3 linked regions of the Homo sapiens genome follow. The protein of the gene in region 1 purifies or fractionates together with the protein of each later gene. This does not show direct contact. Each region holds a gene or a part of one and is shown on either strand. Other genes may lie near its edges. The genes, in order: SPACA3, FKBP14 and AADAT.

Evidence for each region.
Region 2: the proteins of SPACA3 (region 1) and FKBP14 purify together in Homo sapiens (affinity purification with mass spectrometry; 2 studies listed by BioGRID and IntAct, with this or other methods). This does not show direct contact.
Region 3: the proteins of SPACA3 (region 1) and AADAT purify together in Homo sapiens (affinity purification with mass spectrometry; 2 studies listed by BioGRID and IntAct, with this or other methods). This does not show direct contact.

The regions. Positions count from the first base shown.
Region 1 is NC_000017.11:32,992,187-32,999,891, forward strand, and holds the end of SPACA3 (sperm acrosome membrane-associated protein 3), read left to right. Parts: intron 1-664; exon of another isoform or gene 665-819; intron 820-3,222; coding exon 3,223-3,531; intron 3,532-4,634; coding exon of another isoform or gene 4,635-4,656; coding exon 4,657-4,815; intron 4,816-5,258; coding exon 5,259-5,337; intron 5,338-5,525; coding exon 5,526-5,592; 3' UTR 5,593-5,691; downstream 5,692-7,705. UniProt on the Homo sapiens protein: Sperm surface membrane protein that may be involved in sperm-egg plasma membrane adhesion and fusion during fertilization.
Region 2 is NC_000007.14:30,014,666-30,025,839, reverse strand, and holds part of FKBP14 (peptidyl-prolyl cis-trans isomerase FKBP14 precursor), read left to right. Parts: exon of another isoform or gene 1-453; intron 454-3,023; coding exon 3,024-3,175; intron 3,176-5,535; exon of another isoform or gene 5,536-5,627; intron 5,628-6,716; coding exon 6,717-6,844; intron 6,845-10,946; coding exon 10,947-11,105; 3' UTR 11,106-11,174. UniProt on the Homo sapiens protein: PPIase which accelerates the folding of proteins during protein synthesis. Has a preference for substrates containing 4-hydroxylproline modifications, including type III collagen. May also target type VI and type X collagens.
Region 3 is NC_000004.12:170,078,128-170,089,301, reverse strand, and holds part of AADAT (kynurenine/alpha-aminoadipate aminotransferase, mitochondrial), read left to right. Parts: intron 1-737; coding exon 738-906; intron 907-2,053; coding exon 2,054-2,186; intron 2,187-4,308; exon of another isoform or gene 4,309-4,553; coding exon of another isoform or gene 4,554-4,577; intron 4,578-10,718; coding exon 10,719-10,793; intron 10,794-11,174. UniProt on the Homo sapiens protein: Transaminase with broad substrate specificity. Has transaminase activity towards aminoadipate, kynurenine, methionine and glutamate. Shows activity also towards tryptophan, aspartate and hydroxykynurenine.

The sequences.
Region 1 (7,705 bases):
AAAAAAAAAAAAAAAAAAAAAATCAAAAACAGTCCATGTGTAGCAGTCAATTTAGTTTCCTCCTCTACAACTTAGGGATATTAACCCCACACCTTTCAATTGCTGAGAGGATTGGATGAGATTAAGTTGGAAAAGCTCTGGGAAAGGCCTGGCACAGTGTTCAAAGACTTGACAAACTCCACCAGGTTGGCTGCCTCCTCCTTCTCACTCCCCTCGCGGTGAGAAGAAGGTCTCATGTCCCTGTGGCCACGCCTTTTGTGGACTTGAGTTTCAGAAGCAGCCACAGAGCAGCTACTCCATGCCAGCAACTCTGCAGATAAATAAGACATGCAGATAAATAAGACCAGCCGCCGTTCTTCAGAAGTTAACTTTGTGGTGGGAAAGACTGACATCTATTCCAGCCTCGTGTGACAGAGGATGTGGAAGATCGGGTGTGTGAGAGTGTGGGGGGTGGTGGCATGCCAGGAGACTCTCACTGGGGAACACACCTCTGATAAGACCCTTCAAGTATGAGTCAGAGTTAACCATGTAGAGGAAAGGAGAGGGTGAATGTTCTAGAAAGCAAGGTCATTGTGAGAGAACAAGGTGGCACTGCTGAAACATAACGTGTGAATGAGGGAGTGGGCCGCAGGGCTGGGCTGTGAAGGGTCGTGAAGGGCCGTGTGGACCTCGAAGGGGCAGTTATGGTGGGAGCCATCCAAGGTGTCACAGGGCTGGGCTTTTCATTTAACAAATTTGTTCTGATGGATGTGTATAGAATAGCTTGGAAGAGTGGTTGAGACATGATACAAGAAGACCATGAAGGAAGCCAGGATGGAGGTGTGAACCTAGGAAAGGACGGTGCTCTCGGAGGGAAGGTGGAATCCACAGGACATTGGGACTGATTGGTTGGAACTGGGTGAAAGATGTCATGGGGAAGGAGTGAAGAATGACATTCATATTTCCAGTTTGGGTAAATGTGTGGCCCATCATGTTTTAAAGCACATAAGGAAAGTCACAAGGCAGAAGAAGGCATTGATGGAAACAGTGGTTCTGTTTAGATGTGCTGGGTTTGAGGTGCCTGCAGGGCATTCAAGTGGAAGTGTCCTGCCAGTAGCTGCCTCTGAGGTCTTGGGGAAGATGCCACAGGGGTTGCCAGCCTTCAGGCGGTGGCTAACAGCAGGGCTGCCCAGGGGGTTTCCTCAAAGTGGAAGAGAAGAGGGCTCAAGGCAGGAAGGCCTTAGAAAGCATATCAGCGTTTATGGCCTGGGCAGAAGTGAATTCCACGGAGGATAAGGAGGAGAGTCAGCCAGAGAGGGAGGAGGAAACCTGGGAGAAGGGAGCATCGTGGAAACCAGGAGAGGCAAGCCTTTCAACAGCGGGTGGCGGACGGCATGAGTACAGCTGAGAGCTCCCATGAGACAGAGTCGAAGGGGGCCTCCTTGGACCCGCAGAGCAGTTTCAGCGCGCGGTGATGGCAGGGAGGCCAATTCACCAGGTTGGAAAACAAGCGGGAGGGAGAAAGTGGCGATTTTCCCCAGGAGTTTGGGCGAGAAGAGGGGGAAAGAGACAAGGGAGTAGCAGTCAGCATGAGACTTGAGGGAAGGCATTTAGAAGATGGAGACTGAGAAAGTCTCTACGAGCAGGGGAAGGAGGAGCAGGAGGGGAACGGTGCTAGCGCGCCGGGAGAGGAGGGACAACGGATGGAGCAAGGCTTGGTGATGGGAAGGACAAATCTAGAGCTTAGAGGGAAGATGGGCCTGCATGAGATTGGAGGCCCCGTACCCAAACAATGACGGGGTGGAGATGAGGGCGAGGAGGCTACTGATGAGTTTGCAAGTGAGCAGGGCTAAGGCAGAAAGAGGAAGAAATTCCACAAGTGAGCACCTTGCTTTTCTTAGTGCAGCAGGAGACGAGATCATGTTCTGAGAGCCAAGGGGTGGGACAGCGTGGCGTGCTAAAGGACAATACTGAGGGTTTTCATTTCCTGTGAGGGAAATGGGAGAGAGAAGTCTGAGCAGAGACAAGCGCGAGTACCAGTGTTAGTTGTAGTTCATAACAGAAACAACAACTCACTTATTTTTAGTGCCAAGAGCTACGCTGTGCCCACGCCTTTTCTCATTTATTCTTCCAACAATCATATGAGGCAGGTGTTACTCACGTCCTCATTTTATAGAGGAAGAAACAAGCCTCAGGGAGGGCCCAAAATCAGAGATGGAGCAAGGAGCAGAGGGGGGCTTCCAACCCGAACCTTGCTGCAAAGCCATGACCTCAACCACTTTGTCATCCTCGGGGGCATTCAAGGTCCCGTGGAGGTTGGAGACCAGGGACACCAATTGGCACAAACAAGAGTTTGTACAACTCTTTCACTTTTTGACTCTGTGAAGGTGGAGAGCAGGTGTGGAGGCGCAGAGGTCAAGAGAAGCATGGGAAGGCTTGTCAGAGGTGGTGGGCAGTGGGATAGGAGCTCACAGAGGTGGGGAAATGCGGGTGAGGACAAGAAGCAGGGATGACCAGGGCAGGGGAGGGACTGGCTGAGACACAGAGGAACTGGAGGGGACTAGGTCTGGGGAGATGAAGGAGCCCTGATGCTGTGACACCCAGGTGCTAATGTCCTCTGTGATTTGGGGGACTGGCCACACACAGCCAATGATGACAGGGCAGGGAGGTCAAACCAGACGGGCAGGCTGGGCTTCCAGGGAGAAGGGCTTTTTGCAGGTTATGGTTTAGAAGTGGTGGTGGGGGTGGAGGAGACTCTCGGGACATCTTGGGGTCTTGTGTGTGGAGAAAGAGCAGCTTCCCCTTGAGCGGGCTATAGGGGAGCAGTGTTCTGGGGGAGACCTTGTTTCAGTTAAGATCTGGAGATGGAGGGTCAATGCCAGAAGGGCTGTCCCTTGACAGTTGGGCTGAGAGACCCATGAACACACCGCCTGGCCATCCCCTCCGGGAGCATCTGCTCAGTGGGGCTTTGGATTTATAGAACTTTGTCTCCATCCAAACTTCGCCCCTTCCTAGTTATAAAATCTTGGGCCTCAGGACTAAATAATCCGTAACGTGTAATATGGAGCTTACAATAGGTTAGTTTTCTTCCTGTCTCTGGCCTGGGTGGTGTGAAGCAGGATGGGGAAGGAGAGGGGCTGGTCTCGGGGTCAGGGTGATGCTGATCAGGAATGCAAGGGGGCTGATACGTGCTGCTGGAGCCTGGCCTTCTGCCCACCCCTTCTCTCCTCTCCCCTTTCCCAGGGGTGCACTCAAGCCCTGTTTCTTCTCCTTCTGTGAGTGGACCACGGAGGCTGGTGAGCTGCCTGTCATCCCAAAGCTCAGCTCTGAGCCAGAGTGGTGGTGGCTCCACCTCTGCCGCCGGCATAGAAGCCAGGAGCAGGGCTCTCAGAAGGCGGTGGTGCCCAGCTGGGATCATGTTGTTGGCCCTGGTCTGTCTGCTCAGCTGCCTGCTACCCTCCAGTGAGGCCAAGCTCTACGGTCGTTGTGAACTGGCCAGAGTGCTACATGACTTCGGGCTGGACGGATACCGGGGATACAGCCTGGCTGACTGTGAGAACCCCTCTCCCTGGCGGGCCCTGACTTCCCCACACCTCCCTCCCTCTTTCCCTCCCTCTCTCCTTCTCATTCAAGGGCTGTGGCTTCGGGAGCTTTTAGAGCCCTTCTGTAAACTGAAGATGATTTGAGATGGCAGGTAGAGAACAGCCAGCACGGAGTAAAACACGCAGTAGGCAGGCAGCAGGCAACCAAATTGGAGTCACCCCTTCATTTCCCCCTGCTGCTAAAGTCGGGGTCAAAGGAAACAAACAGCTCAGTCCCCTAAACTTAACTATGGCCACAAGGATCAGACATTCCTTCTGAAATTAGAAAAGACAAACTGAACAGAGCAGTCATGCCAAACTTTTCAAGCTGGTGGCAGTTTTAGATGGCCATGTGGGAAGGGCAGTCATACCGGGGCTCATCTTTCTAACAGGTCGAGCACCCTCTATAGATTCCACCTGGGTCTTCCTAATCTTGTTACTGAAGATTTAGCACTTGTAGGCTGGGTGCAGTGGCTCAGGCCTGTAATCCCAGCACTTTGGGAGGCCAAGGCAGGTGGATCACTCTGAGGTCAGGAGTTCGAGACCAGCCAGGCCAATATGGCGAAACCCCGTCTCTACTAAAAATACAAAAATTAGCTGGGCATGGTGGCAGCTACCTATAATCCCAGCTGCTTGGGAGGCTGAGACAGGAGAATTGCTTGAACCCGGGAGGCAGAGGTTGCAGTGAGCTGAGATCACGCCACTACACTGCAGCCTGGGCAACAGAGTGAGACTCCGTCTCAAAAAAAAAAAAAAAAAAAGATTTAGCACTTGTAGATTCATTCAACAAATTTATTGGGCCCTACTATGTGCTGAACAATGAGATAATGGGAAGACTGCTGGGCTAAAAGTCAAGAGGCCTGAGGCCAGCCCCAACCCATGCTATTTGGTAGCTGGATGGGACCCTGGGTGAGTCGCTGTGCACCTCTAAGCCTCGATTGATTGGTTTGCAAAGCAGGTGGGAGGCACCTGCCCCAATCACCTTGATCAGGCAGGAGAGGCTCGGTGGAGCCAGCGTGGGACCTGTGCAGTGAGCACCCTGGTCTGGGGTGGCTGTAACCATCTGACCCCCAGGCCTATGCTCTGCCCTATGCAGGGGTCTGCCTTGCTTATTTCACAAGCGGTTTCAACGCAGCTGCTTTGGACTACGAGGCTGATGGGAGCACCAACAACGGGATCTTCCAGATCAACAGCCGGAGGTGGTGCAGCAACCTCACCCCGAACGTCCCCAACGTGTGCCGGATGTACTGCTCAGGTAGCTGGGCCTGGGCCCAGGGCTGGCAGGAGTCAGGCCCTGCATTAGCTTTTGTTCCATTCCCAGTTTAGTTTGCTACCCCCATCTCTGAGTGAGGGTTCCCCCACATCAGGCTGGGCCCACGGAGGAGAGGGAGATGGGACAAGGGATGAGGGTAGGTCTTCCATCAGTCTGAATTGGGGTCCCAGATAGGAGACTGCCTTAGGGCTATAGGAATGGAGGGAGGATTGTTTCTGATGGAGGGGGAGAGGGATAGGGTTGTACCTGTGCTTCCGGAGTGGTTGAGACAGGATTGGATTTAGGCGAGTGGAGTGTGTGTGTGTGTGTGTGTGTGTGTGTGTGTAGAGAGAGAGAGAGAGACAGACAGATACACACTCACACACACACACACACACCTGGATGTCTCCTGTTCTCTCATTGTGTTTCTCTGCCTATCACCCCAGATTTGTTGAATCCTAATCTCAAGGATACCGTTATCTGTGCCATGAAGATAACCCAAGAGCCTCAGGGTCTGGGTTACTGGTAAGTAACTTGGGCTGGAGCCCCGCAGCGGTGGTATGGTTAGGACTGGTGGGCAGCAGCAGGGAACAAACCCCTTTCCTTCCTCACTTCTGGTTTAGAGACCACACTCTCCTTCTTGTTCTTCTCTGGGCGGTGACTGGCAACTGCAGCTGATATTATCTCTCCTCTTCCCTGTTCTCCATCCTCAGGGAGGCCTGGAGGCATCACTGCCAGGGAAAAGACCTCACTGAATGGGTGGATGGCTGTGACTTCTAGGATGGACGGAACCATGCACAGCAGGCTGGGAAATGTGGTTTGGTTCCTGACCTAGGCTTGGGAAGACAAGCCAGCGAATAAAGGATGGTTGAACGTGAATATGGCTCTCAGCTCTCAGTGTGTCTGCAGGTGCCATGTCAGAGCCAGAGCACCTCCGTTTTCCCTCACCTCACCTGTCCGCTTGGGCTGGGTTTCCAGTGGACTCCAGAAAGCCCAGCACCAGAGGCTTACCTCCATTTCTGGTGGCCTGTGGGCAGGTGTTTGGGGGGGGCACCAGTGCATTTTTTGTCTACCACACCTGGCAAAATTTGGGTCTAGGGTGGCCAGATTTAACAAAACAAATACATAAGAAACAACAAAAACAGGATGCCCCAGTTTAATTTGAACTTTGGATATACAACAGATAATTTTAAGCATGTCCAAAATATTGCATAGGAACATATTTATATTAAAACTATTTGACGTTTATCTAAAATTTAAACTTAACTGGGTGTCCTATGTTTTACCTGGCAACCCTAGCTGGATCTAGGGCTGTGCACCTCTGGCTTGATTGGGAAGGTTCTTGGGACACTTTTTTTCTGCAGCTTTGGTTGCAGATGGTGGTCACTGTGCTTTGGCCCTCCAGCTGTGACTACTAACACACACCCCTGCCAAGCCGGGGGTGCTGCTTGGTCGCGGGAGAAGAATGACCACCCGGAGCTTCTGCTTTCACCTTGCTCTCTGGTGCCCTCTCGTGGCGGAAGATTCAAGTGCCGCTGATAGAGACGGTGCGCTCACTTTGCCCACTACTGCTAGGAGTTTGGAGGATGGGACGGGAGTGACCGTGGCTTTCAATCCGCACAGCCAGTGCAGCCTTCTGCCTTAGTCAGCACACGAGAAGCCCAGAAAAAGATAGCGCGGTCCCCTGCTAATCTGGGACGACTGCCTCTAAAGGAGGAAGGTGGGTGGGTCTCAGGATCGCAGTGGATGTGGTGGCAGCAGCAGCAGTTGCAGAGATAGGATGATGTGTGAGAAGCCTGAGCCCTGAGTTCAGACTGTAGATTCTTCTGAAAAGGTTCCAAAGAAACCTGTAAGCACTGAACTGTTGGTTGAGGCATGGCTGGTGACTCTTAGGGAGAGGAGGGGACGACACTGTCGCCCCCCACCATCCTCCTCCACCTAATTCAGCCACCCTGAATGCCTCCGGGTCAGCATACACCAGAGGGGCGTGGAATGTCCACAATTAGCGAGTCAGGCCAGTTTCCTTCCCCTGCTGGTCTGGTCAAGATGATGATGAAACTTGAGAGCGACTCATGCAAGGGGACAGAGTGGTGAAGAACCCTGCTGGCAGTAGGGGCATCAATGACTAATGGAGCTATTAAATCATAAGTAGGGAGAAGCTGCTGTCTTTTTAACATCAAGGCAAACACGGTGTGCCTACCATGTGCCATGCATTATCTAATCTAGACCCTAGAACAATAGCTATGATGCAGCTACCATTATGACCACCATTCCACAGACAAGGGGAAACAGAGGCTCAGATGAGATAAATTTGCACCCAGCTCAGTGTGACTCCACATGTACGCTTACTCACTGTACTTTGCCAAGGGGTTGTTGTTATGGTCATCTGGCCTGGGACCCATGACCCATCCATCTTTCTTTTTTTTAAATTTATTTTTTGTAAGACAAATTAAAAATTTTATTTATTTTTATTTGTACAACTAATGGGGTACCTGTGTGATTCTGTTACACATATAGATTGTATAGTGGTCAAGACAGGGCTTTTAAAGTATCCCTCATCTGAGTAATGTACACTGTCCCCATTAAGTAATTTTTCATTGTCCACCCCCCTCATACCCTGCATTGTTCTGAATCTCCATTGTCTATTATTCCAGTCCTTTTTTTTTGAGATGGAGTCTCACTCTGTCACCCAAGCTGGAGTGCAGTGGTGCGATTTCAGCTCACTGCAACTTCTGCCTCCGAGGCTCAAGAGATTCTCGTGCCTCAGCTTCCTGAGTATAGGTGCCCACCACCGCACCTGGCTAATTTTTGTATTTTTAGTAGAGATGGGGTTTCACCATGTTGACCAGGCGGGTCTTGAACTCCTGACCTTGTGTAATTTGCCCACCTTGGC
Region 2 (11,174 bases), on another chromosome or scaffold:
TTTCACTGACCTACTTCTTTTGTTCTGACGAATGGTATTTTGGTCAAGGCACAGGACCATGATTTCAGTCATTTGCTTCTTTCTAGAGAGTCAGACTTCATTGATGAGGTGGGTGTGGTTTTGGAAGTCTAGGTGAAGGATTTTCAGGTGGTTACACTATCATTTCTGTTCTATAAACGAAGAAATTGGAACATGGAAATGGTTTACAGCCTAATGATTTTCAATTAGGCATCGGTTCCATTCATTCCATTATGACAGTATTTAGTGAGCATTTCCTTGATGTTAAGCCATGTTCTGGGTGCTAGGAAGATTCAGAAATTTTGGCTTCTAATCATCTTCATCTATTCATTAGTCTGTCCATCTATCAAACTCTTATTGAATGGTCACAAGTCAGGTCCTGGAGACGCAAAGATGGCTAGAAGCAGGTTCTTGTCCTCTAACAGTATACACCATCTACAGGTGGGAGAAAGACAAGTAAATAATGCAATGATATAGGGTACAGAATATTCAAAGTGCTAGCAAAGCGTAACTGGGCCTGAAGTAGTTAGGCTCCATGGGGTGGGGAAAGGGAAAGACTTCCCAGAGACCATAATTGAAATGAACCTTGGAAGATGGGTGGAGGTTTCCAGGGGGAAAGTAGGGAAGGATGTTGTAGGTAGAGGGAATAACATGAATTAAAACAGTAAATCTTCATAGCCCATCCTCCACCTGATTTTCTAATAAACTGCCTTTACTGGGCATTCAGACCTGGTCTGTCTTGAGGGTTGGGGAAATGAATGGGGCTCTTCTCTAAACTGTTAGCCCTGGGAAAAAGTTCCAGAAAAATGGCTTGCCTTAGAATTCTCAACAGCCCTTTCTTCTTGTCAACTAGGTGAGTGCCACGGTGGATATTAAATGATGTGATTTGCATTTTGAAAATTCAGTTATATTGTTATTTTTAGTCTGATCTCTTTTAGACTCAGCCTGACTTCTTTCAGATTTCTGAACCAAAAACCTGTGCTGACTTTGGTGGTAGCCATGGAATATTATTTAGCAGTTTGCTACTAAGTTCTAATACCTGATGAGGGGACTGTTATCATGCAGCCTCCATGTAAATGGTCAGAAGCTGCTAACTGTAAACTTCATGAAGAAATACCATCAAATTGGCTGGGCGTGGTGGCTCACGCCTGTAATCCCAGCACTTTGGGAGGCCGAGGCAGGCAGATCGCGAGGTCAGGAGTTTGAGACCATCCTGGCCAACATGGTGAAACCCCGTCTCTACTAAAAATACAAAAGTTATCTGGGCGTGGTGGGCACCTGTAATCCCAGCTACTCAGGAGGCTGAGGCAGGAGAATCGCTTGAACCCAGGAGGCGGAGGCTGCAGTGAGCCAAGATTGCGCCGCTGCACTCCAGCCTGGGCAACAGAGCGAGACTCCGCTCTGAAGAAAAAGAAATACCATCAAATGATCAGTTTGTAAGCACGTTTGCCATCTCTAGAACCATAGCCTATGGGATAAATTGCTTAGCCCTAAGAAGAACTGTGCTAAAATTGTAGTCAGTGATGAGTAGTAGAATGTTTCCTGCTTCTTTTTTCATTTCTAGCCTTCCCAAATTTTCTACAGTTGGCATTTTGTTACTTTGATCATTGGGCAAAATTACAGGAAAAAATGGCATTACCCAGATTTAGTAACCATGGTACTCATGAAGCGTAGTACAGTGACTTCTTTTTCTCACCTACAAGATATCCTTGAATAGAATATTTTCCTTATTGCACTGAAAGGGAGCTAGGTAGGGATCAGGCATTACTCAGCCCTTAAGCCTCCCTGTATGTAGTTCGGCAGGTTGGTTTTCCTAGGCTAGACTCTCTTCAACTCATGAGCCAGGACATTCTATTTCCCTCGTCCCCAGTTGATAGGGTTCCGCTATGGCCCCACCCAATTCTCATCTTAAATTGTAGCTACCATAATCCCCACATGTTGTGGAAGGGACCTGGTGGGAGGTAATCGAATCATGAGGGCAGGTTTTTCCCATGCTGTTCTCCTTGTGATAGTAAATAAGTCTCACGAGATCTGATGGTTTTATAAAAGGCAGCTCCTCTGCACACTCATTCTTGCCTGCTACCATGTAAGACGTGCCTTTGCTCCTCCTTTGCCTTCCGCCATGATTGTGAGACCTCCCCAGCCATGTGGAACCGCGAGTCCATTAAACCTCCTTTTCTTTATAAGTTACCCAGTCTTGAATATTTCTTCATAGCAGTATGAAAATGGACTAACACACCAGTCCTTGAGGGGCTACTCTTCCAGACTTTCCTATATAGCCCCACTGTAGACCCCTGAGGAGGAAACTGGGCTAGGGTCTGAGTGGGGATTTAGGGATGAAAAGCAGCCTTTTCTACCCGTCAGAGCCATCAGCAGGCCATAGCTAAGGCAAGTTTGTAGGCAGGATATAAGACACTGTGCTTCTCACTCTTCATATCTGTGTGCATATGGACCCACATATGTTGGCAGTAAATTCTCCTTAGCCTTTCAATCTCCTTCCCAAACTCAGCCATTTTTCCATTATTTTCTCCTTGTTCTGCAACCTAGTGGCCTTCCTGGGACAACATAACTTTGTGATTAAGACCTTGAACTTTGGAGTTAGGTTTAAAGACTGGAACTTAACCTGTGTTTCCTCATCTGTGCAATGGGGTAGTAATGGTACTTATATTATAGACTTATTGTAAGGGTTAAGAGGCAAAAAATAAAATAAAATTTAGAATAATTCCTGGTATACAACAAATGTTCAAATGGTTGTTGTTTTTATTATTTCCTCTGTCTTTCTTAAGCCCAGTCAAGTATGTGAAATTTGCATCAAGAAAGATGGGCAGTGAATTGAATTCCTATAAACTTGACTTGGAGGTGTGTGTGTATGTGTGCAAATACAGAATTGCTGTATTTATAAATTTTTAAACTAATAAACTTAACCACTTACTGGTGGGAAAATGCACTAAAGAAAATTTTTTAGAGTTAATAAGGAGTTCTAATGTGTTTTATTTCTATCATAGTCACAAACATAACAATGGTCAGCCCATTTGGTTTACCCTGGGCATCCTGGAGGCTCTCAAAGGTTGGGACCAGGGCTTGAAAGGAATGTGTGTAGGAGAGAAGAGAAAGCTCATCATTCCTCCTGCTCTGGGCTATGGAAAAGAAGGAAAAGGTAATAGTATTTCTGTATTTTTCTTACTATAGCACTAGAGTTGTTCTCTGGATTAGGAGACAGAAGTTAGAGTCACTATAACTTTTTTTTTTCCCCTGGAAGTTAATAGGGGGTATGTATTCCTTTAGCAACTGTATTATGTCTTGAGTATCAATTGAAATGGCCAGTTTAAGGCCGTAATGTCTAAATGGGCAACTATGCTAACAATAAAAAAAGAACATTGAGGTCTATTAATACTGTTCACAAATATGGTGGGTTGTTTTAATTGTGATAAAATATACATAAAATTTTTCATTTGAACCATTTTTAAGTACACAGTTCAGTGGCATTAAATACATTCATGTTATTGTGGAACCATCACCACTATCCATCTTCAGAATGTTCTCATCTTCCCAAACTGAAACTCACCAATTTACTTTAACAATGCAGAGAGAAAGATCCATTAACGTAAGTGTTTGGATGAGTTGAACATGTGAAATATAGATTATTAAAGTATTGAATGCATTTTAGATGTGGGTTATATATGGGTTGTACTTCATGAATATTAAGTCTCCCACAGCAAACTGGGAGTTCTTTTCATTCCCGTTTTTAAATTTATTTATAAAGTTTTTAACAATGTATTTAAAAAAAATCATAGAGTGACATGAAATGAATTTAATTCTCCCTGTGTCACAAAGCAGAAGCAAGCTGGCTAGCTGGTCCGGACAGCTTTTGTACTAGTTTTTCAGGGCAGACACATATCCTGCTGTTCAAGTGAGAACCCCTGCAACTTTCCAAAGAGCTGCTTTGTGATATATATCAAGAGGTCTGGGCCAGGCATGGTGGCTCACACCTGTAATCCCAGCACTTTGGGAGGCCAAGGAGGGTGGATCACTTGAGGTCAGGAGTTTGAGACCGACGTGGCCAACATGGTGAAACCCTGTCTCTACTAAAAATACAAAATTAGCTGAACGTAGTGGAGTGCACCTATAATCCCAGTTACTTAGGAGGCTGAGGCAGGAGAATTGCTTGAACATGTGAGGCAGAGGTTGCAATGAGCCAAGAACGTGCCACTATACTCCAGCCTGGGGGACAGAGCCAAACTCCATCTCAAAAAAAAAAAAAGAGGTCTGAAGATGTCTATATGCATTTATTCTATAATTCCTTCAAACCTAAGGGAATAATTAGATATCAGGAAAAAAATTTGTGAACAGGGATGTCCATAATTGCATTGTTTCTAAGCAAAAAATTGGAACTGTCGTAAGTGGTATACTGGTAAGAATTTAGCTAAATAAAATATGGCCCAGTTATTTAAAATGGCATTTCCAAAGAGTTTAAAAATTATATCTGAAATGCATGAGATACAGTATTATATATAAAAGTAGAAAATAAACCTATAGTATATATGATAGTAAATATAGGAAAAGGTACATATACATAGAAAGTTAATCATAAGGAAATAAATAAGAATGTTAAAAATGGACTGTGATACTGGGAATCATATTTATTTCTGGTTTTATCATCCAAGTATGTGCTCTACAATGAGCATGTATTACTTACATAATGAAGAAAAAAAAGTTTAAGTAGTCATCAGAACCAGACAGACAACTACTCTGATATAGTATAAATATAGACTTCATAGCATCCTGAAGTCTAAGGTTAACCACTGACAAAAGTGAGGAGTCAGGATTCACAGCCCATTTCCTGAGAAGGAAAATAGATGCCATATGGCAAGCATTATATATTCCAAAATATACAAATCTATACAAATCTTGTTCATAGGATAAGATTAACTAACCAAATTCAATTCTTCTTTTAGTCATAATCCTCTTTAGAGAAGAAAACCAAGTATCTAGAAAATTTTTTCTGATGCTGAGAATGTTTTCATTTTATCTTTATTGTCTCACCTTTAATATTTACATACAGTAGTTCCCCTTTACCTGTGGTTTCACTTTCTACCGTTTTAGTTACCTGTGGTCAACTGCAGTCTGAAAATATTAAGGTATTTTGAGAATGAGAGACAGATTGCATTCATATAACTTTTATTATGATATGTTGTTGTAATTGTTCTATTTTATTATTTTTAATCTGTTACTATGACTATTTTATAAATTAAACTTTATCACAGATATGCATGTATAGGAAAAAGCATTGTATGTATGGGGTTTGGTACTATCCATGGTTTCAGGCATCTAATGGGATTCTTGGGACATATCCCAGTGGGGACTACTGTACGTTGTATTAGTCCATTACTCTTTCTCATACTATATTTAACTCAAGTTTACTTCACAATAAGTAGAGATCTAAATTTGAGTCATTTCCTTCAAACTGAATGCCATGAAACTAATTTTTCTAATCTGTATTTAACACTAATTTTGTAGTCTTTTAGTACATGCTTGCATGCCTCTTTTGGAAAGATACCAGTTTTATCAACAACCTAGCGCATGTCACATCTCTGTCTAGATCTGAAATGGTAAGCTTCAGCACACTTTATAAGTCTTCTCTTTGGAATTTATGAATGTTCTTTCATGGAAATATGTGGGATGGGGGGAGGATGACTAAGAAATATTTAACATGTTTACACAGACCTGTATGTTAAATATAGTTATAAGGAAACAAGTTTGAGAAAAACAATTGTCCATACTCCACAGATGGGTGTGTTTGTTTGTTTGTTTGTTTGTTTCAGGTTCCTGGGATTTTAACAAAGCTCTTTTCACTTTTAAAGATTTTTAATTTCCCTTCTCAGAAATTCATTTTAATTTCTCCCCTCCCATGAAATGTCTTCAACATATATATAATGTTCTATATCAGAGGTAGTGTTTCCTAACTTTCTGAAATTGTTAAACCTTCCTGCATTATTTTTAAAGCCTGTGAGAAAATTATACCTCAATAACATGTATTGAGAGTTTACTATTTGTCAAGTTTAATGCTAAGTATTTTGCATGGATTTTTCTCCCTTTATCCTCCCAACAGACTCCTGAGGAGGAAATTTATTATCTGCATTTTATAGATGAGGAAATTGAGGCTTAGAGATGGGCAAATGTAAACTTCAGCCTCAGACAGTGTGACACCAGAGCTTACTCAATTATATGGGTAGAAATGCCTTCTAGTGGTAGAAATGGCAATACTGTATGTATTTCTAGGTCAGGACTTTCTGACCAAAAAGTTAGTTTATTACTTTTAATATACTTAACTCCGAATTATCTAAAACCCTTCAAGTCCTTCTTGACATATAATATGTAATATATTAATTATATTAGAAATGTAATACCTAAGCCATTAGGTACATCTCTATGTATGTATATGCATTGTGTGTATGTGTATTTACATTTTAATTGCTAAGCCAAAGATAGAATGCTTTTGCTCTGCTAGTGTATATTATTTCTTCTTTTACTCTATTCTATTCGAGTAAAATATAATATACATAATTTTCATCATATATGACAATCTTAGGAAGGCTCTTTAATTCAGTTAAAAAAAATACTTTGTCCATTACCATAAATTTTCTATTATTAAAACTTTTGGCTCTTTTAAAACTTTCTGCCTTCTTTCCTCACGTCAGGTAAAATTCCCCCAGAAAGTACACTGATATTTAATATTGATCTCCTGGAGATTCGAAATGGACCAAGATCCCATGAATCATTCCAAGAAATGGATCTTAATGATGACTGGAAACTCTCTAAAGATGAGGTGACCTTTCCTTCTTCCTACTCCTCTTTCTACTTTTCTTTGGTTGTTTGGGGTTTTGTTTTGTTTTGTTTTTGTAACTCACTTTTTAAATGAATATGTGTATATTTCAAATCTACTTTTATTTAGGTAACATTTATTTATAAGTTTTCTTAAAATACTGATGCTTTGAAAGTGGACTTTTTCATAGTGAATCACTGTTTTGGAGAGAAATATATTAAGACTTAAAAAGCACCATTCAATCTTTTGCTTTTTTCTTCCCAATGCTTAGGGTTCACTGTATCTTATGCTTACCCTTGGGTCTTTGAAAGAACAATTTTGCCAAGACAGTTTCCATCTGGAGTTACTGTATAAGAAGCTAGCTGTCCTGAGAAATATCTCATGTGGACAGTTTCTGTTAAAACTGTAGACTGGCTGTTAAATACATCTTGTAGTGTTTTCCTGGCAATTAACAGCAAGCAACTTACATGCTCTGTTTTGTTCAGGTTGCCCCAGAGAAAAGAGACCCCAGCCTGGGTTTTACACAGCAGGGCTCCAGCCCCATCAAAATCTGAGCCTTTGGGTAAAGAGAAAGGAAGAAGAGGCTTCTCCTTATAATTCGGCCATTGCTACACATACCTGTCTTAGTCTGGCTGCTGCGGGGAAAGAAGTGGAGGGAGATATTTATTCCTGTTTTTTATCTACTCACACTCCATTCTGTCCTGACTGGTCAGATATCAAGTCCCTTTCTATGCTTTGATCAAATTCATTCTAATGGCCAGGAAATGATTAAGTCTTGAATAAGCCAAATTGTTACGAACCAGGGGTTCATGATCCACAGCCACTAAATTTATAACACCTCATAGTATTACCAGTCACATGCCTTTTTCTTCCATCCAAGATAAATTTTAATTCCCTTTCATTAAATAATTTTGAATATATAACACAGTCACATGGTTCAAAACAAAAATCTATTTATTTATTTATTTATTTATTTATTTATTTATTTATTTATTTATTTCCTGAGAGGGAGTCTTGCTCTGTTGCCCAGCCTGGAGTGCAGTGGCAAAATCTCGGCTCACTGCAACCTCTGCCTCCTGGGTTCAAGCAATTCTGCCTCAGCCTCCCAAGTAGCTGCACCATCATGCCTGGCTGATTTTTGTATTTTTAGTAGAGATGGGGTTTCACCATATTGGCCAGGCTGGTCTCAAACTCCTGACCTCGTGATCTGCCCACCTCGGCCTTCCAAAGTGCTGGGATTACAGACGTGAACCACTGTGCCCAGCAGAAAGATATTTATTTAAAAGTCTTAGCTGGGTGAGGTGGCTCACACTTGTAATCCTACCACTTTGGAAGGCTGAGGCAGGAAGATTGCTTGAGGCTGAGACTTCAAGACCAACCTGGCCAACATAGGAAGACTTTATCTCTATTATTTACTGTTTTTTTTTTTTTTAGACGGAATCTCACTCTGTTGCCAGGCTGGATTGCAGTGGTGCGATCTCAGCTCACTGCAGCCTCTGTGTCCCGGGTTCAAGCGATTCTCCTGCCTCGGCCTGCCAGGTAGCTGGGACTACAGGTGCACGCCACCATACCCAGCTAATTGTCGTATTTTTAATAGAGACAGGGTTTCACCATGTTGGCCAGGATGGTTTCAAGCTCCTGACTTTGTGATCCGCCTGCCTTGGCCTCCCAAAGTGCTGGGATTACAGGTGTGAGCTACCGCATCCGGCCTATTATTTACATATTTTTAAAAGTCTTTCTCCTACCTACATCCTCTTCTATTCTATTATCCCCACATCCAGTTTTATTAATTACTTTTTTCTTTCTTTCTGTTTTTTTTTTTGTAGAGATGAGGTCTCGCTATGTACAAGCATGCACCATTGCACCCGGCTTAGTTTTATTAGTTTCTAATATATCCTTTCAGTGTTTCTTTCTGCAAATCCAAATACATAGTCTTATTTCCCCCTTTCTTACACAAAAAGAAGCAAACTATACATGCTGTTTTGTCGTTTTGCTTTATTCACACAATATATCCTAGAAATACATTCTACATTAATCCATAGAGTTTAATGGATTAATGGATCTCTCCCCCACCCCTTTTTTTAACAACTGCATTAAATCACTTTAACTTAAAAATAAATATATACTATATGTGTACTTCTTGAAAGCTGGGGGAGAGAGGATTTGAAATTGCTGGTCTAAACAGAAGGAAGAGAGGTGATATAATTAAAACTGAAAATATAGGCTGATTTTCATTGTGGTGAATCTTGTGGGAAATTGAAAACAATATTTATATTTTTAAATATCTGAATGAAATGAAAATGGAGTCCGGGCATGGTGGCTCACACCTGTAATCCCAGCACTTTGGGAGGCCAAGGCAGGCAAATCTTCTGAGGTCAGGAGTTCGAGGCCAGCCTGGCCAACTTGGTGAAACCCTGTCTCTACTAAAAATACAAAAATTAGCCAGGCATGGTGGCAGGTGCCTGTAATCCCAGCTACTAGGGAGTCTGAGGCAGGTGAATCGCTTGAACCTGGGAGTTGGAAGTTGTAGTGGGCCGAGATCGTGCCACTATACTCCAGCCTGCGTGACAGAGCAAGACTCTATTTCAAAAAAAAAAGAAAAACAAAAAAACAAATGAAAATGGAAAATTGTAGTCTAGGCACTTATCAGACCTGACTTTCTGAGATTGAAAGGTTGTGATTAGACTCAATCTAATCACATGATCATAACCAAAACCCAAAAGACCCACTACTTGCAGACATTTATTCAAGTCAAAGATGCCACTATTTAATCTAGTTTTAAGAGAAGTGTCCATGGGGTGCAGTGGCTCATGCTTCTAATCCCAGCACTTTGGGAGGCTGAGGGGTTTAGATTGCTTGAGCCCAGGAGTTCAAGACCAGCCTGGGCAACATGGTGAAACCCCATCTCTACAAAAAATATAAAAGCCAGATGTGGTAGCACATGCCTGTAAGTCCCAGGTACGTGTGAGGCTGAGGTAGGAGGATTGCTTGAGCCTGGGAGGCAGAGGTTGCAGTGAGCTGAGATGGTGCCACTGCACTCCAGCCTGGGTGACAGAGCAAGATTCTGTCTAAAAGGCCGGGCGCGGTGGCTCACGCCTGTAATCCCAGCACTTTGGGAGGCCGAGGCGGGCAGATCACGAGGTCAGGAGATCGAGACCATCCTGGCTAACACGGTGAAACGCCGTCTCTACTAAAAATACAAAAAATTAGCTGGGCGTGGTGGCGGGCGCCTGTAGTCCCAGCTACTCGGGAGGCTGAGGCAGGAGAATGGCGTGAACCCGGGAGGCGGAGCTTGCAGTGAGCCGAGATTGCGCCACTGCACTCCAGCCTGGGCAACAGAGTGAGACTCCGTCTCAAAAAAAAAAAAAAAAAGATTCTGTCTAAAAAAAGAAAAGAAATGCCTAGTATTTAGATTCAGATTAAGAACAAGTAGTATGCTCTCATTGGGTATTCTCCAATAATATAAGCCCTATATGAGGATTGTATACATGACATAAGCTTTATCTCTGCCTTTGAGCAATATATATATAGAGAGAGCTATATATATATATATATTTTTAATTTTTTAATTTTTTATTTTTTTGACAGAGTCTCACTCTGTTGCCCAGGCTGGAGGGCAGCAGCGCAATCTCGATTCACTGCAACCTCTGCCTTCCAGGTTCAAGCGATTCAACTGCCTCAGCCTCCTGAATAGCTGGGATTACAGACGCATGCCATCATGCCTGGCTAACTTTTTTTTGTATTTTTAGTGGAGATGGGCTTTCATTATGTCGGCCAGGCTGATCTCCAACTCCTGACCTCAAGCAATCTTCCCACTTGGGCCTCCCAAAGTGCTGGGATAACAGGCATGAGCCACCACACCTGGCCCTGCCTTTGAGCAATATTTTGTGTCTCCACTTTAGCAGTTTAGCAACAGTTTTTTTAAGGGAAAAAGTTTCTATTATTTTTTAATTATCATTAAAACTATGTCATAAAATGGCTGTTTAGAAGGTATTATATTTAGTTAATGAACTAAATATAATAACAGTCCATGTCTGTGATATTGATTGGCTCAATGTGGGTATCTTATGAATCCAAGTTATTAATGGGATCTGTTATTTTGTAGGTTAAAGCATATTTAAAGAAGGAGTTTGAAAAACATGGTGCGGTGGTGAATGAAAGTCATCATGATGCTTTGGTGGAGGATATTTTTGATAAAGAAGATGAAGACAAAGATGGGTTTATATCTGCCAGAGAATTTACATATAAACACGATGAGTTATAGAGATACATCTACCCTTTTAATATAGCACTCATCTTTCAAGAGAGGGCAGTCATCTTTAAAGAACATTTT
Region 3 (11,174 bases), on another chromosome or scaffold:
CATGCACAGCGTGCAGATGGGTGTACAGTGGAGAGGGCCAGGTAAATGGGAGAGGGGTGGGCCATGAAGCTCACAGACAGGTCGGGGCTAAGTGGAGGAGGGCTTCTGCTATTGTGGCCCTTTGCTGTCTTTCTGATCCCTCTGCCTTCTCTTTGGTCACCTTCATTCTTTAGTCCCTCCACAAGTGAGGTGCCTAGAAAAAGTTATTCTGTATGTTTATTTTAGACTAGCTTTTGTCTTAGTCCATTCAGGCTGCTATAACAAAATACCACAAACTGGGTAATTTATGAACAATAGAATTATTTCTCACAGTTCTGGAAGCTAGGAAGTCTAAGATCAAAGTGCCAGCAGCTTCTGTGTCACCATGGTGAGAGCCCTTCCTTATAGACAGAGCCATCTTGCTGCATCCTCACGTGGTAGAAGGGAGAACCTATGTCCTCACGTGGCAGAAGGGCCAAGGGCATTCCCTCAGCCCTCTTTTATAAGTGCACCAATCCCATTCAGGAGGGTGGATCCCTCCTGACCTAATCACCTCTAGAGACCCCACCTGTTAAAACTATCACATTAGTATTAACTTCCAAGTATGAATCTGGGGGAGCACCAACATTTAGACCATAGCACACTCTATCACTAGAAATCGTTAAACTTTATAGTTTTATTGACTATAATGCATGCTTAACTATCCGCTTATAACAATCTTCAATGAAATTGTTTCTTCTCTTCCATGTGTATTGTAGCTGACATATTGAGCAGAGGACCAAAATCGATGATCTCCTTGGCTGGTGGCTTACCAAATCCAAACATGTTTCCTTTTAAGACTGCCGTAATCACTGTAGAAAATGGAAAGACCATCCAATTTGGAGAAGAGATGATGAAGAGAGCACTTCAGTATTCTCCGAGTGCTGGGTAAGTATCAATACTTAACATAATTTTATTGGCTTATTTTCATAAGAAATATTCTAAGGCCCATTGATAAAGAATATTAAAGAAATATTCTAAGGTCCATTCATAAATATTCTAAAGCCATTGACCCATTTGGTCATTCAATGACCAAATACTCAGTCATTGAATACTAACCAAATGAGTATTCAATGGTTAGGAAGGTCTGGGGAAAGGTTTTCAAAGGATAATTAAGAACAGAAAGGATATTGAATGTTTAACACTCCTCAGTGATTGCTTCTCAATCGCAAATGACCAAGAAGGCTTCTAGAAGGAAATACCATTAGAGCTGAGTCCAAAAAAATGAGAAGATGTCCAGGTGAAACAAACATATCAGGAGAAATGAAGAAACGGAAGATCCAGGAAGCTTCAACTTTTTAAAGTTTAAGCATCCTGGATCTTCCGTTTCTTCATTCTATAGTCTAAACAAGCAGTCATGCAAATACATTGAATATAGTCATTCATTTCTATAGTCTAAACAAGCAGCCATTCAAATACATTGCCCTCATAGGTTCAAATGTCTTTAATTTCTTAAAGGCAAGCTGAAACATATACCTTGACTTTCTTAGCTGGTCTTCTTCAAGTGATAAAGGATAATTTATAGAGAATCTATAAATTATACTTTATTAAAACCTGCTTTGTTCTGTGATTGAAAAGTGTATTGAAATGTTATTCATGTATATATGTGTTAGTTATGTAATATGTTAAATATACATAGGCTTATTCAAACATTCCATGATACAAACAACTTATTGAGTCTGAACTTCTAGGTAGCCATAGAACTCTTCCTAGAGAGAACAAAGAATCGATTATGCAACGCATGCGCTAAAGACTTCAGGTTTGGAATAAGAAAGATGTAGATTCAAATCTCAGCTCATTTATTACGTAATTGACTTTCTGAGAATTTCTGGCTGAATGACTTACAGGAATTTCCTAATCTCTAAGTCTACTGCCTATCTTTTAAATAGGAATATTCATACTGGCAAAAAGCATTTGAGGGTTTTTTAATTGAGTGTACAAAGTGCTTGATAAAGCTGTCATTTATTATTTCCTGTCTACTACTGTTACTATGATTTTTACTACTATGAATTTAAATATACATTTTTTGCTTTAGAATTCCAGAGCTTTTGTCCTGGCTAAAACAGTTACAAATAAAATTGCATAATCCTCCTACCATCCATTACCCACCCAGTCAAGGACAAATGGATCTATGTGTCACATCTGGCAGCCAACAAGGTCTTTGTAAGGTAAGACTGAAAGGAAAACTCAGCCAAAATGTAGAATTGGAAGCATTCATTTCTATAGTCCTCTCGCACTTAACCACAGAGAATTATATTTTATGGATTACTGGTAGTCTTTCTTGTCTTCACCTAGAATTATAAACAGGGAACTAAAAGACAAGTCATAGGATGGGGGTGGGAGCAGTTGTGGCCGGGGATGGGCAAGGGTGGGTAGGGGGTGTTGACTGTAAGCAAAAGCCAGGTGGAAATATTGTAGGTTGATCTATCAATATTTCCCCCTAGTTTTCCTCATTGTGAACACAAGGACTTTGAAAAATTACCTGCTCTTAACATCATTCACTAGCCTAATCTTTCTTAAATATTAAATACAGAGCATGTGGTCAATTACCCAGACCTATTAACCATTAAAGCAGGATGCCCACTAAGGGAGTACTCAACTCCTACCAAAAGCTTAGTGAACACTGCTTAATTTCATCTGGCTCAAAAATTCAAGTTACGTTTGATTTCCGCCTATAGTTAGGAAATTTCAATACAATTTTTAAATTTTTTAGAGGGCATGCTTTCATATTCCTGAGATACACATATTTATATTCTTTTACATATCTGTCTGTAGAATCTCTCCTTGCCACTGCTTGTATCTTGTCCCCCTCTTGGGTGTATTTCTCTAGATCTATTTATATGTCTGTATTTCTGACTTCTTATATGGATTGGTTCTCTCTCCCTCTCCCCCTGGCATTAGTTATTCCATCTTCTTCCCTTCTGGGTTCCGGGAACTCCACAGATGTAAACACCACTGGTTAGTTGCCACAATAAAGAGACCACATCTGTGGTCCTCAGTTTGATCTGTTATTTTCTTTTCTTTCTTTTTTTTTTTTTGAGACAGGGTCTCACCCTGTCACCCAGACTGGAGTGCGGTGGCGCAATCACGGCTCCCTGCAGTCTCGACCTCCCTGGGCTCCAACAATTCTTCCACCTTAGCCTCCCAGGTAGCTGGGACTGCGGGTGCACACCAATATGCCTAGCTAATTTTTATATTCCTTTGCCATGTTGGACAGGCTGGTCTTGAGCTCATGGGCTCAAGCAGTCTGTCCACCTTGGCCTCCCAAAGTGCTGGTATATTTTCTCCTTTGTTTTCCATGAATAATAAGATTCTCTATATTCATTCTCAGATCTAAATTAATCTATGACTCCCATTTATCTTTATCTTAAACCAGAGTAGTTTTCTTTTTCATGGAAATATGAAAACTGTAATCTGGTTTGCTTTAATGAATTTTAATTAAATTATTGTTACAGAATAATGGGTTACAGTAGTAAAAACATTTTTTAAAGTTTTTAAAAATTAAAAAAACTTACCCTTTTTGTATTTAATTAGGAAAAGTAAAAGAATTAGCTAGTGTTTGAGTCTTTGCTTGAAGAGAAACATTTGTGATTGTATAGAATGATATAAGAGTATTTTTTAATGAAATAAATTCTTTCCTCAAGAAAGGATACTATGGACTTTTTCTTCCAGAAAGTTGCTCAAGACAGTTTCTTCTTTATCCATCACAACACCAGTTACACAAAAAAGGAAGATAGCATAGATTGCTAAATACGTCAATAACTTACTACTTACAGACATGCTTATTATAGGGGCACTAATATGTATCTGGTTTAATATTTCTTCCACTTTGTTCTCCAGGAGTCATGTTATTTTAGACTCCTGTGTTTCTCTCTCATCTTTTAAACAGTGCTCCCAGATGATAAACAGCCTTCCCTTCTAATTTAGGATATTTGAAATTTGTATGTCCCCTAACTGATATGAAAAATATATTTACAGTTGACCCTTGAACAACGCAGGGGTTTAAGGGCAATGACTCCATGCAGTTGAAAATCTGCATATAACTTTTGACTCCTCCAAAACATAACTACCAATAGGCTACTCTTGACCAGAAGCCTTACTGATAATATAGTCAATTAACACATATTTTATATTTTATATGTATTGTACACTATATTTTTACAATAAAGTAAACTAGAGAAAATAAAATGGTATTAGAAAGTCATGAGCAAGAGAAAATATATTTACCATTAAGTGGAAGTGGATCATCATATAGGTCTTCATCCTCATCTTCATGTTGCTTAGGCTGAGGAGAAGGAGGAAGAGGAGGGGTTGGTCTTGCTGTCTCACGGGAGGCAGAGGCAGAAGAAACTGTGCGTGTAAGTGAACCTGTGCAGTTCAAATCTATGTTGTTCAAGGATCAACGCTAATTAGGTTTTCATTTGATCTGTTGATATGTACGTGCTGCCACCCAAGTGATTCCTTTGGTCCTAGGATGTCTTGTAAAGCTTAAGTCAATTAGAAACTTTTCGGAGGAGGATACTGTTTGTCATAAGATGCCAAAAGCTCATAAGGAAAAGGTAAATTCAACATCACAGGTCAGTTGGGGAACAAAAGTCAAATCTTCTATCTCAATTGATAATGGCCCTACTGTTTGTGGTGAGATGTGGGTTGTTAAAGTGATAGGAAAAAGGACTCAAACTGGGGATTGTGAAACATCACAAGTTAAGAAGCAATTATTCTGTGACTTATGTATGATTTAGTCATAATAGACCCCTTTGATTTAGGCTGGAAAAATCTATTGCCTGGCTCTAGTGATTGTAGTAGAAATCATATTATCCACATAATTTACAAAGATTGTCAAACCTTTTATTACTTGACCTAGAAATATTCTTTAACTCCGTTGATCTCCCCATCCATTTTATTTTAAAAAATTAATTTTTAATTTTTTCTGTTGCCATAAAATACACATATAAGATTTGCTATCCTTGCCATTTTTAAGTATACAGTTCAGTGGTAATAAGTACATTTATATTCTTTATTTTTCCTTCACCCTATCTCCCTCCTGTCCTTTCCAGCCTCTGGTAACCACCAATCTACTCTCTATCCTTATGAGATCCACTTTTTTAGCTCCCACAGATGAGGGAGAACATGCAATATTTGTGTTTCTATACTTGGCTTATTTCACTTAACATAATGACCTCCATTTCTATCCATGTTGCTGCAAATGACAGGATTTTATTCCTTTTTTATGGTTGAATAATATTCCATTGTGTGTATACCACATTTTCCTTATCCATTCATCAGCTGATGGACACTTAGGTTGGTTCCATATTTTGGCTATTGTGAATAAGTGCCATAATAAACATGGAGGTGCAGATACTTCTTTGATATATTGATGTTTTTGTTTTGGATATATACTCAGCAGTGGAATTGCAGGATTATATGGTAGTTCTATTTTCAGTTTTTTGAGGAACCTCTGTACTGTTCTCCATAGTGGCTGTACCAATTTACATTTCCATTAAAGTGTATAAAGGTTCCCCTTTCTCTACCCTCATCAGCATCTGTTATCACTTGTCGTTTTGAAACTAGCCATTTTGAATATGGTTAGGTAATATCTCATTGTGGTTTTGAGGTTTTTCTGATTGCATTGGTAATATTGAACTTTTTTAATGCCTTTTGGCCGTTTTTATGTCTTCTTTTAGAAATGTCTGTTAAGATCTTTTGCCCAATTTTTAATGGGATTATTTGGGGGTTTTGCTATTGACTTGTTAATCCCTTGTCAGATGGGTAGTTCGCAAATATTTTCTCCTCTCCTGTAGGTTGTTCTAGTTCCTTGAAGTGCATTATTAGGTTGTTAATTTGAAGTCTTTCTACTTTCTTGAAACAGGCGTTTATTGCTATAAACTTTCCTCTTAGTACTGTTTTTGCTGTCTTCCACAAATTTTAGTATATTGCGTTTCCATTTTCATTTATCTCAGTAAAACTTTTAATTTCCTTCTGAATTTTTCATTGACCCATTCAGGAGCACGTTGTTTAATTTTCGTGTGTTTGCATATTTTATAAAGTTCCTCTTGTTATTGATTTCTAGTTTTATTATTGTGGTCAGGAAAGATATTTGATAAGATTTGGGTTTTTTTATTTGTTCAGACTTGTTTTATAGCCTAAGGTATGGTCTGTTCTGCAGACTCTTCATTGTGCTGATGAAAAGAAAGTATATGCTGCAGCAGTTGGTTGAATATTTTTGTAACTGTCTACTAGGTCTATTAGATCTAGTATGTAGTTTTATCTCACTGTTTCTTCATGTTGATTTTCTGTCTGGATAATCTGTTCATTACTAAGTGAAATGTTAAAAAGTCTCCTACTATTATTGTATTACATTCCATCTCTCCCTTTAAATTTACTAATATTTGTATACTTGGGAGGTTGTATTATCTTGCTGAATTGACCCCTTTATCATTATATAGTGACCTTCTTTGTTTCTTTTTACAATCTTAGGTTTGTAGTCTATTTTTTCTAAGTGTAGCTACACCTACTCTTTTTAGGTTTCCAATTCCATGGAATATGTTTTTCCACCTCCTCATTTTCAGACTGTGTGTCTTTATAGGTGAGGTGGGTTTCTTGTAAGCTGCATATGATTGGGTCTTGTTTCTTTATCCACTCAGCCACTCCATGCCTTTTAATGGGAGAATGTAGACCATTTCCATTCAGTGTTATTATTGATAAGTTAGAACTTACTACTGGCATTTTGTTGCTTGTGTTCTGGTTGTTTTGAGACTCCTCTCTTCTTTTCTTCCTTTCTTACTGTCTTCCTTTGTGGTTAAGTGATTTTCTCTGGTAGTATTTTATAATTTGTTGCTCTTTATTTTTAGTGAATCAATAATAAGTTTTTGTACTGTGGTTACCATGAGGCTTACAAAAAAAAAATCTTATAACAAGTTATTTTAAAGAGGTAACAACTTATCTTGGATCAACTTATCTTGGAGAAGCAAACAAATGCAAAAAACATAAAAAAATCCTCTATTCTTTAACTCCATTCCCCCCACATTTTGGCTTGAGATGTCTCAATTTACATATTACCTATCTTAACATGTTGCTGTAGCTATTATTGTTTTTGATCAATTTGTCGTTTAGGCTTCATATGAGAATTATGAGTGGATTGCACACCATAATTACAATCATAGAGTATTCTGGGTTTGTCCATGTACTTAATTTTACCACTGTATTTTTTACCTTGAAAAGTTTTCTTTTGCACATTAGTATTTTTTTCTTTCAGGTTGGAGAACTCCCTTTAGCATTTCTCGTAAGATGGATCTGGTGGTGGTAAATTCTCTCGGCTTTAGTTTGTCTGGGAAAGACTTTATCTCTCCATCATATTTGAAGGATAATTTTGCTGGATACAATATTCTTGGATGATCGCTTCTCGGCCTTTTGGCTAAGATCAAGTGTACAATATTTTTGGATGGGCCGGGAATGGTAGCTCACGCCTGTAATCCCAGCTCTTTGGGAGGCTGAGATGGGAAGATTGCTTGAGGCCAGGAGTTCGAGCCCAGCCTGGTTAACATAGCGAGGCCCCATCTCAGTCAATCAATCAATAAAAATATATGTATATTCTTAGATAGCAGCTTTTTTCTTTGGGCACTTTGAAAATGTCATTTCTCTTTTTCCTGACCTGTACAGTTCCATTGAGATGTCTGTTGCCAGACAAATTAGAGCTCATGTATGTATTATTTTCTTCTTTTGTCTTGTTGCTTCTCATATCTTCTCTTTGTCCTTAGCCTTTGAGAGTTTAATTCTTATATGCCTTGAGGTAGTTTTATTTGGATTGAATCTGTTTGATGTTCTCAGACCTTCTTCTGTGGCCTGGATATTTATCTCTCTCACGTTTAGAAACTTTTCTGTTATTATTTCTTTAAATAAGCTTTGTACTGCTTGCTTTTGCTCACCTTCCTCTTGCAGACCACTGATTCTTAGATTTAGTCTTTTGGGGTAATTTTCTGTATTTCGTAGGCACTCTTTGTTCTTTTTTCTTTTTTCCCCGACTGTATTTTCACGTAGCCAATCTTCAAGCTTACCTATTTTTCCTTCTGCTGGGTCCATTTTGATGATGAGAGCCTCTAATGAGTTCCTCAGTTCAACAATTCTGAGTTCAGTATTTCTCAGTTCCAAAATTTCTGGGGTTTTTTGTTATTTTTATTATTTCAATCTCTTTGTTAAATGTCTCTGATAAATTTCTGAATTGCTGTTCTGAGTTACCTTGAAGATCACTGAGTTTTCTTAAAACTGCTATTTTGAATTTTTGGTCAAAAAGCTGACAAATTGCCATCTTGTTAGGATCAGTCACTGGATTTTTGCTTTGTCATTTTGGGGAGGTCATGGTTTCCTGTTGGCTATTGTTTCTTGTATGTATACATCAGTTTTTTGCATTAAAGGATTAGTTATTTATTCTAGTTTTGTTTGTTTGTTTGATTTGTCTGGCTTGCTTTGCTTTTTATTGGATATATTTGCTTAGTAAATCTCTATTGTTGGGTCACTGCTTCCTTGTTGGCATCTTCCAAGGTGGCACCTTAAGTCCAGGTTTAGTAAATAATTCGAGAACAGCCTGTCCCAAATCAGGGAGGTCCCAAAGGATTTATTCCATTGGCATGAGATGGCTAGCAAAAGAATTATACCCAGGAACCTCTGGAACATTCCTCCTGCAGTGTGGTGCTGCTGAACAGTCACTCTGTTTTGGCATGCCTTTCGCTGAGTTACAGTGCAGAGTTTCCAGGGCTTGGGATGGTAGTCCTGCCTCCCGATTTTGTCTCTGCCTGTCCTCAGGGATGTTTTTCCCTCCAGGCAGTCATGATGCTTCCAAAGGGTTAAAGGCAAGGACAGGTCTCCAGCCAGGGAACCAAAGATGGTGGGGAAAACTCTTGGCCACCTCAATCTCACTTTTTCCAGTGTAGAAGCCGTGAATTAGGGGGAGTTTTTCCACGTGCTTGGTGCCAGGCAGAATTGGGAGGAGGGGTATCATAGATGCTGAAGTATGCCTTTCTTACCATCTGTTCAGAGTTTTTTCACTTCTCTGTAGTCCTAGGAACTGACTCATCCTCATATTTGAGTTCTGGGTTGTTTCTGGTGTAAATTTTAGCACTGTATATTTGTTAGTGGTTTTGTGGGAGGGAATGAAGTCAACTTGCTTCTACACCACCATTTTGGAACTGGAAGTCTCCCCCACCCTTTTGAAAACACTGTCCTCCTCTAGCTCTCTCAGTAGCATGTTGTGTGGTTCTCCTCCAGCCCACTTTCCCTCCCTTCCTTGCAGTGTCCTCCTCTACCCAGCCATTATTTATTGGAGTTCCCTGTAGCTCAGTCCTTAAACATCTCTCCTTAGTCTATGTACTTTTCCTGGGTATCTTCATTTACATTCACATGATCAACCATATGCCAGTAACTTCCAGGCTCCTTCCAAATCCATTTGTCCATCTATCCATCTGACATCATCACAGGGTGTTTCAAAGGCACCTCACACTAAAACAAATCATCCTGTCACTCAGATATGGATGGCTTTTTGGTTATGTGTTTCAGTGAATGGCACCACCCCCACCATCTATCTAGTTCCATAACCAAGTATCTAGGCATCATTCTTGACACCTCCTCTTCCTCATTTCCCTATTGTCCATAATCATGTTCCATTACTTTTCATTTCCTAATACCTCTCAGTTCTTCTCTACAATTCCTCTGTCACCACTCTACTTTAAGATGACCCTTACCTGTTCCAGGCCTGTGGCAGTAACTTCCCAAACAATCCTAAAAACTTTCTAAACTTTCCACATGTATTCTCACCCTTCTTTCATTCTTTCATACTGCAGCCAGATTGATCTTTTCAAGACGAGTATCTAATCATGTGACTCCTCCTCCCCACTCTCTTCCTAAAATCCTTACTTGCCTCCCTTGGCTCAAATGCCTACATGGTTGGTCTCTGCCCACTTCTGTCTGATGTCACACCACTCTTTTCTCTACATTCTGCCTCAAGACACATAATTATTTTGGTTTTTCAAATCTAACTGTTGTTACCCCGTACACCAACTCATCGCTTCCTCCAGGATGCCTTCCCTGAATTCCCTGAATGCCTAGGTCTTCCTACAATGAGCTCTTATGTCATTGTGCATCTGTACTTAATATCACTCACCACCGTTTTTAATTTGCACATTTATTGGGTAGTTATTTAATTGGTGTCTAGCTTTCCCAGTGGACCAGTAGCTCCATGAGAGTAAGAACCATGTCATTTTGCTATTTTATCTCTGACACTTTACACAGGCCTGGCGTATAGTAAACATTTAATAGATTTTCAAAGAAGCAATAAAAGGAATAAATGAATGTTAGCAGCCAAACCTCTGTTCACCTTTCTCTGGAACAGGAGTTGGCAAACTATGGTTTGAGAGCCAAATCCAGCCCTTCATCAAATTTTGTAAATAAAGTTTTATTGGAACTCAGTCACACCCATTCATTTATATATTGTCTATGGCTACTTTTTCACTATAGAGGCAGAGTAGTTGCAGGGTAGTTGCAACAGAGATACTATGACCCGCAAAGTGTTTACTGTTTGGCCCCTTATAAACAATTTGCTAATTCTTACTCTAGAACCATGTGAGCTCAAACTAAAAAATGGGCTTCTGAGCATGGAAACAGTACTAACCTATGCTGACTAACAAGCTAACCTATGCTTCTTTTGTTAGGTGTTTGAAATGATCATTAATCCTGGAGATAATGTCCTCCTAGATGAACCTGCTTATTCAGGAACTCTTCAAAGTGTGAGTATACATTTTTACTAAAGGCAACTCTCTTGTAGTAAATAAGAAGAAAACTTATAATAAAGGTTTTATAATAACTTTATTATAATAAAGTTAATATCTTATTAACTTTAAAATAATCTGTCCACAGAAAAATGAAATAGCATATTTTATCCATAAGCAGGATAATCTTAAAGGATATATACAAAGTATGTGAAATGTATTCTCTTCTTTATACATTTCTTTTTTGAAATCCAAGTGTATAGGCATTAAAATTAGATTATGCAAAATCATGTCCAATTCTCTTAATATTTTACTTGAAATGTAACTTAAATTACAAAAATTTATTTTTTATTACTATCTTATTACCATATGCATAAGTACAACTATGTTATATGTCAG